Linked DNA regions of Homo sapiens. The protein of the gene in region 2 purifies or fractionates together with the protein of the main gene of each other region. This does not show direct contact. Each region holds a gene or a part of one and is shown on either strand. Other genes may lie near its edges. The genes, in order: PGAM5, ASB14 and POTEF.

Region 1 (3,647 bases), on a different chromosome or scaffold from region 2:
TTGCGGGCGGAGGAGGGGGTGTTTGAGGGTGGAGGAGGGCGTGTTTGCGGGCGGAGGAGGGGGTGTTTGAGGGTGGAGGAGGGGGTGCAGGTGCGGCACTCAGGTGCCTTTCACCTTCCAGGTCGGGAGCAGGCTGAACTCACTGGGCTCCGCCTGGCAAGCTTGGGGTTGAAGTTTAATAAAATCGTCCATTCGTCTATGACGCGCGCCATAGAGACCACCGATATCATCAGCCGGCACCTGCCAGGTGAGTGCTGCGCGCGGGGCCTCCATGCTTGCAGCAGTGGGCGGCTCGTGGCAGGGCCCCGGCCTGAGCTCCTGGCCACCGGGAGGTCACAGCATCTCCGCCGGCGGGGCCGCCTCACCCAGCGCTTCGCTGTGCTTCTCTGCAGGCGTCTGCAAAGTCAGCACAGATCTGCTGCGGGAAGGCGCCCCCATCGAGCCAGACCCGCCCGTGTCTCATTGGAAGCCGGAAGCTGTGGTAAAAACCTCCCCGGGGGGCAGCTGTGTCACCCTCGCCTTCCCTGGGCAAAGCGGCCCTGCTGGGCTCACCATCCACCACGTGCCCGGCCGTCCCACGGGCTTCCCCGGGCGGCGATGGGGTCTGTCCTCCTGACACCCGCCCTGCCCGAGCACTTCCGCACTGACGGCTCCTCACTCTGCCCCCAGCAGTATTACGAAGACGGAGCCCGGATCGAGGCCGCCTTCCGGAACTACATCCACCGCGCAGATGCCAGGCAGGAGGAGGACAGTTACGAGATCTTCATCTGTCACGCCAACGTCATCCGCTACATCGTGTGCAGGTAGGCAGCTGCTGGGCTGGGCGTGGTCTAAAATAATTTCAGACTTAGAGAAAAGCATGAGGAAGAAGCCGAGCGAGACCCTCCTCCACTGCCGATGCCACCCTAGTCAGGCCTCACCAGCCCCCGGGCGTCCACTTCCCGCGAGTCCTAGTCAGTTACGCGGTAGGTGGCGTGTTACTTGGAGCTTCTCATAAGGCTGTTTTGGGCAAGGGTGGTGCAGACAGGGAGGGACCCCTGTGGTGTCCTGGGTGGGGTGCGTGCTGGGTGGGGGGTCCTGAGTGGGGTGCGTGCTGGGTGGGGGTGTCCTGGGTGGGGTGTGTGCTGGGTGGGGGGTCCTGGGTGGGGTGCGTGCTGGGTGGGGGTGTCCTGGGTGGGGTGCGTGCTGGGTGGGGGTGTCCTGGGTGGGGTGCGTGCTGGGTGGGGGTGTCCTGGGTGGGGTGCGTGCTGGGTGGGGGGTCCTGGGTGGGGTGCGTGCTGGGTGGGGGTGTCCTGGGTGGGGTGCGTGCTGGGTGGGGGGTCCTGGGTACGGTGCATGCTGGGCGTCCGCACTGCCCTGGTTGTTTTCCCTTTGTAATTGAACGTCCTGTTTCCCCTCAAACTCGACCAACCACCTTCTGCCTCCGGCTGGATCCCACTGGCAGCATCCCGCCGCTGTTGTCCGCTGGGGATTTTGTGCTTCTGGGGTCCTGACCTCTTTCACTTGCTGATCTGTGGGCGCTCCCACCCGTGTGCCAGCGTGACGGCTCGGGGTGTCCGCTCCCCTCTGGGTCGAGGCCACAGCTGAGTCACGTTGCTGCTCGGGCTGCTCCCTCGGGGGGCCCTTGTCCCTCAACCTGCTCTGGTGCCCCACTCTCAGCACCACAGAATGATCCGGGTTCAGGTTGCGTTTTCCCTGCCACCACCCTGCAATCAGCCACTTCTTTAAGGAGCTCCAGGGCTGCAGCCACGTTAGAGGGCCCCTTGGGGGGCAGGGCCAGCTCTACGGTTACATGCCTGAAACAGTCAGAAGGGTTGGCCAAATCTCACTAAATGCAAATTTGAAACAAATTTGCCTCTTCTCTGGATCCATTAGGAAATGTGTGTGTGGGCTCCGCAGCTGAGGGGGCCCTCTTGAGTGTGACGAGTCCTGTGGTGGGAGGACAGGACGGCACTGGTCAGTGATGCCGTGTGAGGCTGGGCCCTGGTCTCTGCCCGTCTGTCACCTGGGCCTGTCACCAGGGCTGGGGCTGCTGGGAGCACCATGGTCAAGAGCAGCAGCTCCCAGAAAGTCGAGGATGTACGGGCCGAGATTCTCAAGCTTGGCTCCAGACCAGATAGAGCTTTTCTGGGGGTTGGAGCCTCCGGGTGGTGTGGCCTCAGGCTAAGTGAGTACCTGTTTGCTGTGAGTCGTTCGTTGCCTCCTGTCTGTGCTTGTGAATGAGCCATATGGGTGGCTTCTATGCTGCCACCACCACCTTGTGTGTCCATGACACAGTCACCCCGAGGTGACACAAATGCTAAAAATGCACAGAAATAACCGGGGCGGGAGAGTGGAGCCGACCTGAGTCCACACAGTGGTGAGGGCCAGGCACGTGCACCTGGACACGAGAATATGGCTGTGCTGTTCCGGCCGGTGCCGCCAGGCAGCCCTGAGGAGGCTCGGGAAGCAGCGTGAGGGTGGCCATGCGGCCCACTGAGACAGGGCGGTGGGTGGCTCAGAGGCGATGAAGGCAACTCCGAGCTTTTCCGCAAATGCGAATTGTGCCTAAGAAGTGCATGAAGATGCCACGGCGGGTAGATCCCATCTCCGTTCTTTGCTTTCCCAGAAAGGGACCTGTTGCACTAACTGGCTGCTCCCTGCTTTTATATGGGAAAAGCAGAAATTAAACTGTGTTTCCTCGTAAGAAGTCAGCGTTGTTCTGATCTGTGCAAATCTTGAGTTGGGGTTGGGCCCCTGTCCTAAAGAGGGCAGGTCCCCAAGTGTGATGGCTCCATTCATGTCGATCCCAGTCATCGATTCACGTCGATCCCAGCCAGATCTTCCCCGAGAAGCCCCGACTGAAGACAGGAGCGGCTCGGCTGATGTGTACCCCGGCCCTGAGGCTGCTCTGAGACTTCTGAGGGGCTCAGCCTCTGTTTGTAGAACAGAGCCCCCTGGCACAGCCTGGCCCAGCCTCTTTTAAGGACAGAGTCCCCTGGCTCTAGCCCAGCCCGTTTTTTTTTTTTTAGACAGAATCTCGCTCTGTCACCCAGGCTGGAGTGCAGTGGCGCGATCTCAGCTCACTGCAAGCTCCGCCTCCCGGGTTCACGCCATTCTTCTGCCTCAGCCTCCCAAGTAGCTGGGACTACAGGTGCCTGCTATCACGCCCAGCTAATTTTTTGTATTTTTAGTAGAGATGGGGTTTCACCGTGTTAGCTGGGATGGTCTCGATCTCCTGACCTTGTGATCCACCCGCCTGGCCTCCCAAAGTGCTGGGATTACAGGTGTGAGCCACCATGCCCGGCCTAGCTCAGCCCGTTTTAAGGACAGAGCCCCCTGGCTCTAACGTGCTCTTTCTCTCTCTCTCTCTCTCCCCAGAGCACTGCAGTTTCCTCCTGAAGGCTGGCTCCGGCTCTCCCTCAATAATGGCAGCATCACCCACCTGGTGATCCGACCCAACGGCCGAGTTGCGCTCAGGACCCTCGGGGACACGGGGTTCATGCCTCCCGACAAGATCACTCGATCCTGAGGGCTCCGGCCTCTCCTTCCCTCTGTCCTCCCTGCACAGGCCGCACACACTTAACGTTTTGTTCCCAAGGAGACCGGCGGAAAGTAGAAACCTGCAATGCTGCATCTGGGAACTGACTTGTGACCAGGCTGAGAAG
Region 2 (3,647 bases):
TCCCAGTTTTTCACTCTAGTAATAACCAAAACTCCAAGGGAAGGGGAAAGCAACTTAAACTTATTGGGTACTATCTAAGCAAAAGCATTAAACTACCCATGTTGCCTCATAACCCTTTAAAAACTCTGTGAGGTAGGTATTATCCTAATTTTATACTTGAGGAAAGTGAGGGTCAGCCATGGTACCAGCTGCAGGACTTCCCTTCAAACATGCCCCCTCCCCTATCCCCAGCTCTGTAGCTGTGGGCATTTTGAATCCTGGCTTAACTAGCAGGGACCCTTGGCTCAGAGAACTTTGGCCTTTACTGTCTTCGAGGAGAGCTCATTGATGACACTGTTAGATGAAGCAAGGTAGGATCAATCTAAAGCTTTTTTTCAAAAAAGCAAATTTTTACCAAGATTTTTAAAAGTCTCAATAATAGAATTATCTTTATTCTCCTCCCTGTCTAGAAGTATTATTTTGTTCTTTAACAATACACAGTCCTGGTCTCCAGTATTCTAGATGGCAGAGACTCATATTTAAAAACAACCTTGTGCTTTTTAGACATTATCTAAATCTTTCCTGTCATATAGGGGAGGCTAGTTGCTAATCAATGGCCATAAGACATTTTAAGTAAGATGTTTTAAATGATCAATATAAGAAATGTCTAAAGTCATTAGCTGGAATAACAAAAATAAACATTGGAATCTTTCATCTACGAGGAAAGAGTAACCTTTTGTATAGATCATTGATTAAAATACAGAGAAAGAAGCAACAGATGTTAAATCCTTTACCCTGCAAAGAAACCAGTATCAGTTGACCTCAGTGAGTAAGCATTTCCTTTAAGTGACTCCTTACAAAGTAATTTGCACCAAGTGACACAGATGGTACATCACAGAGCCAGTATTTCAAGGTTCATCTGATTCCAAATCACATTATCACCCTGCATTGCTAGAGTGGCAACATGGCATCATAGATATAAGCCCTGGGTCTAGAATAACTGTATATGAATCCTGACTACCTTGCTTACTAGGTGTGCATCTTTGGGGAAGTCACTGAAACTCAATGAGTTTCTTCATCTTTAAAATGAGTATGTTAAGCACCTACTGCTGGGGGTTGTTACAAAGTTTAAAAATTATTATACACATAATGGAACCAGCACATAGTGGGCACTCAATAAGCAGAGGCTTATTGGACTTCTAAGGCATTCTTGGAATGGGGTTCTTGGGCAGCCACTGGACCCTGATGACTCTTATGGAGTCTGTGTTAAATTAAAGTCACTACATCTTTTTTATATGAGCTTCAGAATGCTCTCCGTAACTTTTGTCCATTCAAATGCTACTCTTTCTTCAGAGCCCATTTTACTGGGAACACTTCCACAACTGACCCAAACTCTTTTCTCCTTCCTTCACCTCCCAGCTCCCCTTACAACCCCAGCCCCCCTTACAACCCCAGCCCTAGATCTTCTAGAAGACCTTTTGCCTGTCCCTGTACTCTTATTATTCACATCACTCACATAACACTTAACATACAGGGTGTAAGTTAAGCATTCTTAATCTGAAAATCTGAAATCCAGAATCTTCCAAAATCTGAAACTTTTTGAACATCAACATGATGCTCAAAAGAAATTCCTACTGGAGCATTTCAGATTTCGGATTTCTGGATTTGGGACTTGTAAGTATAATGCAACTTGTAAGTGTAGTGCAAATATTTTTTTTAAAAACCCTGAAATATGAAACACTTCTGGTCCCAAGCATTTTGGATAAGGGATACTCTGTACTAATAACTACAACAACTTACCTCTTTGGCTATTGGCAGTTCCTAACCTCAATTAAAAACAGTTACAGTGTCTCCTACTATGGTCCCCTACGAACAAGCTAAAACAGAACAAATGCCCTTTTCCACCAAAACAGTATCATTAGATGGCATGGTATTATAGTTTGATAGATTTGTTAGTACCATCCTATATGTGTGTTATGAGTTAAGTGGGCTTTTATAGGCTGGTCTAGAAATAAAAGCAACTTTTATAACAGTATTTCTACTGGAATTTTCAAGTTCCAAACAAATGGACATCAAATTACTTCAAAAACTAACCTACTTATAATTTAGAAACTGCCATTTTTTTCTTCCCCAACTAGTTTATAAGTTACTTGAGAGCAGGAGGTATATATTCTGTTACTTTGATTCTTGGTGCTTTGCTAGAGTGCGTGCTCACTAATTGCTTTTTGGTGATGGGGATATATTTTTAAGATTGCTCAAGAAATACAGTGGAAAATAATTTTTGCATTAACAAGAGTCTTTCTCCTCTTAGGAGCTAATGCTCATGGTCAGGCCTCTGATTCTTCTTCCATCTTACTTGAAGCCGCAAGTGGAGGAAATCCAGATGCTGTGGCTCTCTTGCTGGAGTATGGAGCTGATGCCAACATCCCTAAGAATTCAGGCCACCTGCCCATCCATGTGGCAGCTGACAGGGGCCACTTACTGTTAAGTTCAATTACATTATTATAAATAATAAAAACAGTAATAGCTACCTTTTATTTTGTGCTGCTTCTAGGAACTTTATAATCTTTAATCACTGATCCCACAATCTAAACATACTTTTTTTTTTTTTTTTTTTTTTTGAGATGCTGTCTCCCTCTGTCGCCAGGTGCTGGGTCTGAACCATAGACCCTGGCCAAGTGACAGATGAAAGTACTTAGACATAGGTATCCAGTGAAAGAGTGGGCTAGGGGACCAGGCTGCTCAAAGAAAGAGTTGTAGCAGCCATGGCCCTGACAAGCTGGTGCTTCAGGCATTTATTTAGTACAGGTTTAATGACAAAGGCTTTGAGTCAGCACATCGTGTGAGTAATTAACACGGTTCCCCCCCAACCCCCGCTGCCAGAACAGTCCTACATGTGGATGATTAAAGGCCAGTTCTGAGGCCTAAGTAAACTAACTTATCTAGATCAATTCCCTTACACTTCCTTGTAACCTACTCTGAGAGAATTCAGCTGCCTTCAGCCAAATCCTTTCCTGAAGCTTTTGCAAAACCTCCCGGCCTTCCAAGAAGGTGTGCTTCTTTCTATAATTTTAATAATATTTCCCACCACGCTGACTGAACTCCTGCAGCCAGGCTGGAGTGCAGTGGCATGATCTCGGCTGACCGCAACCTCCGCCTCCCGGGTTCAAGCAATTCTCCTGCCTCAGCCTCCTGAGTAGCTGGGACTACAGGTGGGCACCACCACACCAGCTAATTTTTGTATTTTTAGTAGAGATGGGGTTTCACCATGTTGGCCAGGATGGTCTCAATCTCTTAACCTCGTGATCCGCCCTCCTCGGCCTCCCAAAGTGCTGGGATTACAGGCTTGAGCCACCACCCCCAGCCCTAAACATACCTTTTAAAGATGAGAAACTCTTAGGAGAATTGCTTGAACCCAGGAGGCAGAGGTTGCAGTGAGCCAAGATTGCGCCACTGCACTCCAGCTTGGGCAACAAGAGGAAACTCCGTCTCAAAAAAAAAAAAAAAAAAAAAAAAAAAAGAAAAACTCTTGACCAACTAGGAAGAACTAGAAATGGCTGTTTAACCAGGCATCCTCTGAAGCCACCGAAGAGATATAAAACTTTTTTCTCAGGTACTTAGACAATATGGGAAGCCTCAGGCCTCTGAGCTAATTCTGAATTTTATAG
Region 3 (3,747 bases), on a different chromosome or scaffold from region 2:
TTCCCCATCCACTTACCCACTTTCCCCACTGTTTTTCCCACCGTCTTTTCCCTTTCTCCCTGGCCACCTTCTTTTCCCCCATCCCACTCTCATCACCCTCTTTTGCTCCTTCATCTAAGCAAAAACATTTTCTCCCGTCTTTTCCCAAACCCTTCTCCTCACTCCTGCTGCTCACCACTTTTTCGCCCTTCATCTACCCGAAAACTGTTTTCCTCATCGTCTTTTCCCCCGCTCCTCCTTGCCACCCTCTTTCCCTTCTCTACCCAAAAACATTTCACCATAGTCTTTTCGCAAAGCCTTCTCCCCACTCCTGCTCACCTCCCCTTTTCCCCCTCCATCCACCCCCCAGAATATTCCCTACTGTCTTTTCACAGTCTTCCCCCCTTCCCACTCGTCCTCTTCTTTGCCCTATCCTGCTTGCCACTCTCTTTTTTGCCTTCCATCTACCCCAAACTATTTTCCCATTTTTTTCCCAACTCTCTTTCCCTGCTCCCTCTCGTCACCCTCTTTCCTCCTCCTCGTTACCCTCTTTCCCCCCACCATCTACCCAAACACTTTTTACCCACTGTCTTTTCTTTCTCCACCGTCTTTCTTTCCTGCCCACTATCTTTTTGCAAAACCTTGTCTTCCTCCCGCTGGCTACCCTTTTCCCTTCCCCCACCTGTTACCCTCTTTTCCCCCTCTATCTACCCAAAACCTTTTCTCCCCACTGTCTTTTCACAAAACCTTCTCTCCCTACTGCTCAACGCTGTTTCTCCCCCCCACCACCCTCTCTTTCCTCCTCCCTTGCCACCCTCTTTTCCTCCTCCATCTACCCATAAACATTTTACCCACCATCTTTCTGCAAAACCTTCCCTCCCTCCCGCTCCCCACCCCGTTTTTCTCCCTCCATCTACCCAAAAACTTTTTTTCCCACTATCTTTTCCCCACCGCCTTTTTGCAACGCGCTCTCCTGCTCACTATCCTCTTTTCCCTTTGGCACTAACCACCCTCTTTACCCCCTCCATCTATCCCAAAACTCTTTTCCTCCTCTTACCGCTTCCGCCGCACTGCCGTCTCGGTCGCGGTTACCACCAGTCGCAGCGAGGCGAGCCACGGTGTAGCGGCTCCAGCCTCCAGCGTACGGCTGGTGATTACCCATTCCTGGTCCTCTAAGCCGGGCACTGAGCAGCTCCACAGGAAAATACGGGAACGTGGAAGAGCCTGACTTCCCTTCAGCAGCAGTCATATACCGAGATTATATACAGGAGGATTCCTGACTGCATGTTCTGATTGGATGAGAAAAACCCTCCAGGGTTACTTGGATTGGACTTTATTATCATGTTCTGATTGGATGAGAGCCAGTCTTAAGACAACCAATCACAGCATGAAAATAAAGTCCAATCAGAGTAGGCCTAGAGGTTTTTCTCTCATCCAATCAGAACATGTAGTCTGGGAACCACATGTGCGTAACCTCAGTAGGTAAAGCATGCGGAGGTGGCGTCAGGTCATTTCAGGCTCTTAAGTGTGGGCGTTTGGTATCCGGCATGGCTGCTACCTGTTTCTGGCTGGAGCCTCGGACACTGGCTCACTGCAGTTGGTGGTGTCGACAGTGGTAGGAGGGCAACCAGTAGCGGGAGCTTCTCCTGCCAGGCAGGAAGACGAGTAGAAGGGAGCGGCATGCTGGAGGCTGGAGCCTGAGCCCCTGGGGCTCGCCTTGCTGTGTTTGGTGGTGACGTGGGACACTGCAGCTCGGCCAGAGTGGTAGAAATGTCCTGGTGTAGGTGAGTTATCCGGGGATGTACTGCCCGCCTGTGGGGGCAGGGGTTGGGTGTCCTATTGGGGCTCACTACCCGAGGCTGCACTGCCTGTGTCAGGGGGCTGGTTGGGGGCACTCTCCGAGGTTGCATTGCTGGCGGTGGAGGGGGGCGGTTTTGGCTGGCTGTCCGGGGCTACACTGCCCGTGGTGGCGGGGGTGATGGGGGGGAGGCAGGTTGTGTGCACTAACGTGTACTGCCGGTGGCGGGGGAGGGGTTAGGGGCACTATTTTCTGCTGCACTGCCCGGGGCAGGGAGTGGTTTTGGTGGTTATTTGGAGCTACAATGCTGGCAGCGGGGGGTGGTTTAGGAGTGTTGTCGGGTGCTGCACTGCCCTTACTCAGGGTGCGCTATCAGGAGCTGCGCTACCTGTGGTGGGGTGGGGGCGGCGATTTTGAGGCATTGTCTTGTGCAGCAACACCTGTGGCTGGGTCAGGTTGTGGGCACTATCGGGTGCTACACTGCCTGTGGAGGGGGTGGTTGGGGGGGGTATTGGGGTTACACTGCCTGCAACTGGCACAGGGTGTGGTGGGTGTGCTGTCCGGGGGCTACACTGCCGGCGGCAGGGGTCAGGTTAGGGTTGCTATGGGGGCTATACTGCCAGTGGTGTTGGTCGGCTGCAGAGGTGGTGGGGACAGCAACAGCCATGGTCTCCTTGCTCCTTCGGGTGACTCTTCTCTTTTCCAGACTCCAGAGTTCCTCCTGGTGCAATCTTGAGCAGGGCAGGGCCCCCACACCCACTGCGGTTCTCCGGCCTGCACCTCCCGCCCACACCCCATGCTCTGTGTTGGGGAGACCACCTGGGACTACCGGGTGGGGATTAGTGGGCATCGCGGGGGACTGTGGGAACAGGGCACTGTGGGTGGAGGTGTCAGGAATGGGAACCAGCAGTTGAGTGGGGAGGGCTGGCTGGGTCTGAGTTTCTCCTACTCCTGCTCCCCAAGGAGTGCAGCCCTGGTGGGCCCAGCAATTTCTGGCCAGTTGCACCTGGATGGGGGTGGTTTCAGCATAGGCACTCACACCCGCCCCAGTTCCTGGCCACCTTTTGCCAGAAAGAGAGGCTGGACTTCGGTGGGTGGGTCTGAGTGCCTTAGCTGAAGCTGGTCCCTGCCACCCAGTGGCCAGCATGACAAGGTGAGGCTCTAACGTTACCACTCCCTGCATCCCATTCTAGGCTTTTCTGGCTTTGCCCGTCTAGCTGCTCCAAGCCAGGCTGGAGGAGGAGGAGAAGGAATCACCTGTGGTACGCTGGAGCCTGCATGTGGCGTGACTCTGCAGCTCGCCTCGTGTGACTGATGGCAGCCACGGAGACTGCAGCTCGACAGGAGTGGTAGGAGGGTGCCCGCGGGGGCAAGGTGGTAGGAACCTTGTAGGGTGGGCTGCTGCATTGATGGCGACAGCAATTGTATTGGCATTGGTGCTAGTGGTGGTAGTGGCAGAAAGTCTGGGGACTGGGAAGGGGGAGTAGGAGCACTGCAGGGCCCAGTCCGACCTGGGGTGGGGACGAACCTGCTGGTGCTGTACCATGGGCCTCGGTGGCAGTGGTGGAGGTGCACTTAGGGAAAGGAGTCCTCCCCCTTCTCTTGCAATCTCTGGAGGGTGGCCTCCTTCTGAGCCAGGCATGAGTGGCAGCATTGTCTCATTCTTAACAAAATTTAGGGGGTGACTGTGTGTGTGTGTGTGTGGCTTTTTTTTTTTTTTTTTTTTTTTTTTTGAGACAGAGTCTCGCTCTTTTGCCCAGGCTGGAGTGCCGTGGTGTGATCTCGGCTCACTGCAAGCTCTGCTTCCTGGGTTCACACCATCCTCCTGCCTCAGCCTCCCTAGTAGCTGGGACTACAGGCGCCTGCCACCACGCCCAGCCAATTTTATTTTTGTATTTTTAGTAGAGATGGGGTTTCACAGTGTTAGCCAGGATGGTCTAGATCACCTGACCTCATGATCCACCCACCTT

Evidence for each region.
Region 1: the proteins of ASB14 (region 2) and PGAM5 purify together in Homo sapiens (affinity purification with mass spectrometry, with the first as the bait; one large-scale study listed by BioGRID). This does not show direct contact.
Region 3: the proteins of ASB14 (region 2) and POTEF purify together in Homo sapiens (affinity purification with mass spectrometry; 2 studies listed by BioGRID and IntAct, with this or other methods). This does not show direct contact.

The regions. Positions count from the first base shown.
Region 1 is NC_000012.12:132,717,318-132,720,964, forward strand, and holds part of PGAM5 (serine/threonine-protein phosphatase PGAM5, mitochondrial), read left to right. Parts: intron 1-121; coding exon 122-247; intron 248-392; coding exon 393-481; intron 482-669; coding exon 670-803; intron 804-1,444; coding exon of another isoform or gene 1,445-1,493; exon of another isoform or gene 1,494-1,850; intron 1,851-3,360; coding exon 3,361-3,511; 3' UTR 3,512-3,647. UniProt on the Homo sapiens protein: Mitochondrial serine/threonine phosphatase that dephosphorylates various substrates and thus plays a role in different biological processes including cellular senescence or mitophagy. Modulates cellular senescence by regulating mitochondrial dynamics.
Region 2 is NC_000003.12:57,279,117-57,282,763, reverse strand, and holds part of ASB14 (ankyrin repeat and SOCS box protein 14), read left to right. Parts: intron 1-2,290; coding exon 2,291-2,462; intron 2,463-3,647. UniProt on the Homo sapiens protein: May be a substrate-recognition component of a SCF-like ECS (Elongin-Cullin-SOCS-box protein) E3 ubiquitin-protein ligase complex which mediates the ubiquitination and subsequent proteasomal degradation of target proteins.
Region 3 is NC_000002.12:130,127,088-130,130,834, reverse strand, and holds the start of POTEF (POTE ankyrin domain family member F), read left to right. Parts: upstream 1-1,612; 5' UTR 1,613-1,763; intron 1,764-2,970; 5' UTR 2,971-3,126; intron 3,127-3,747.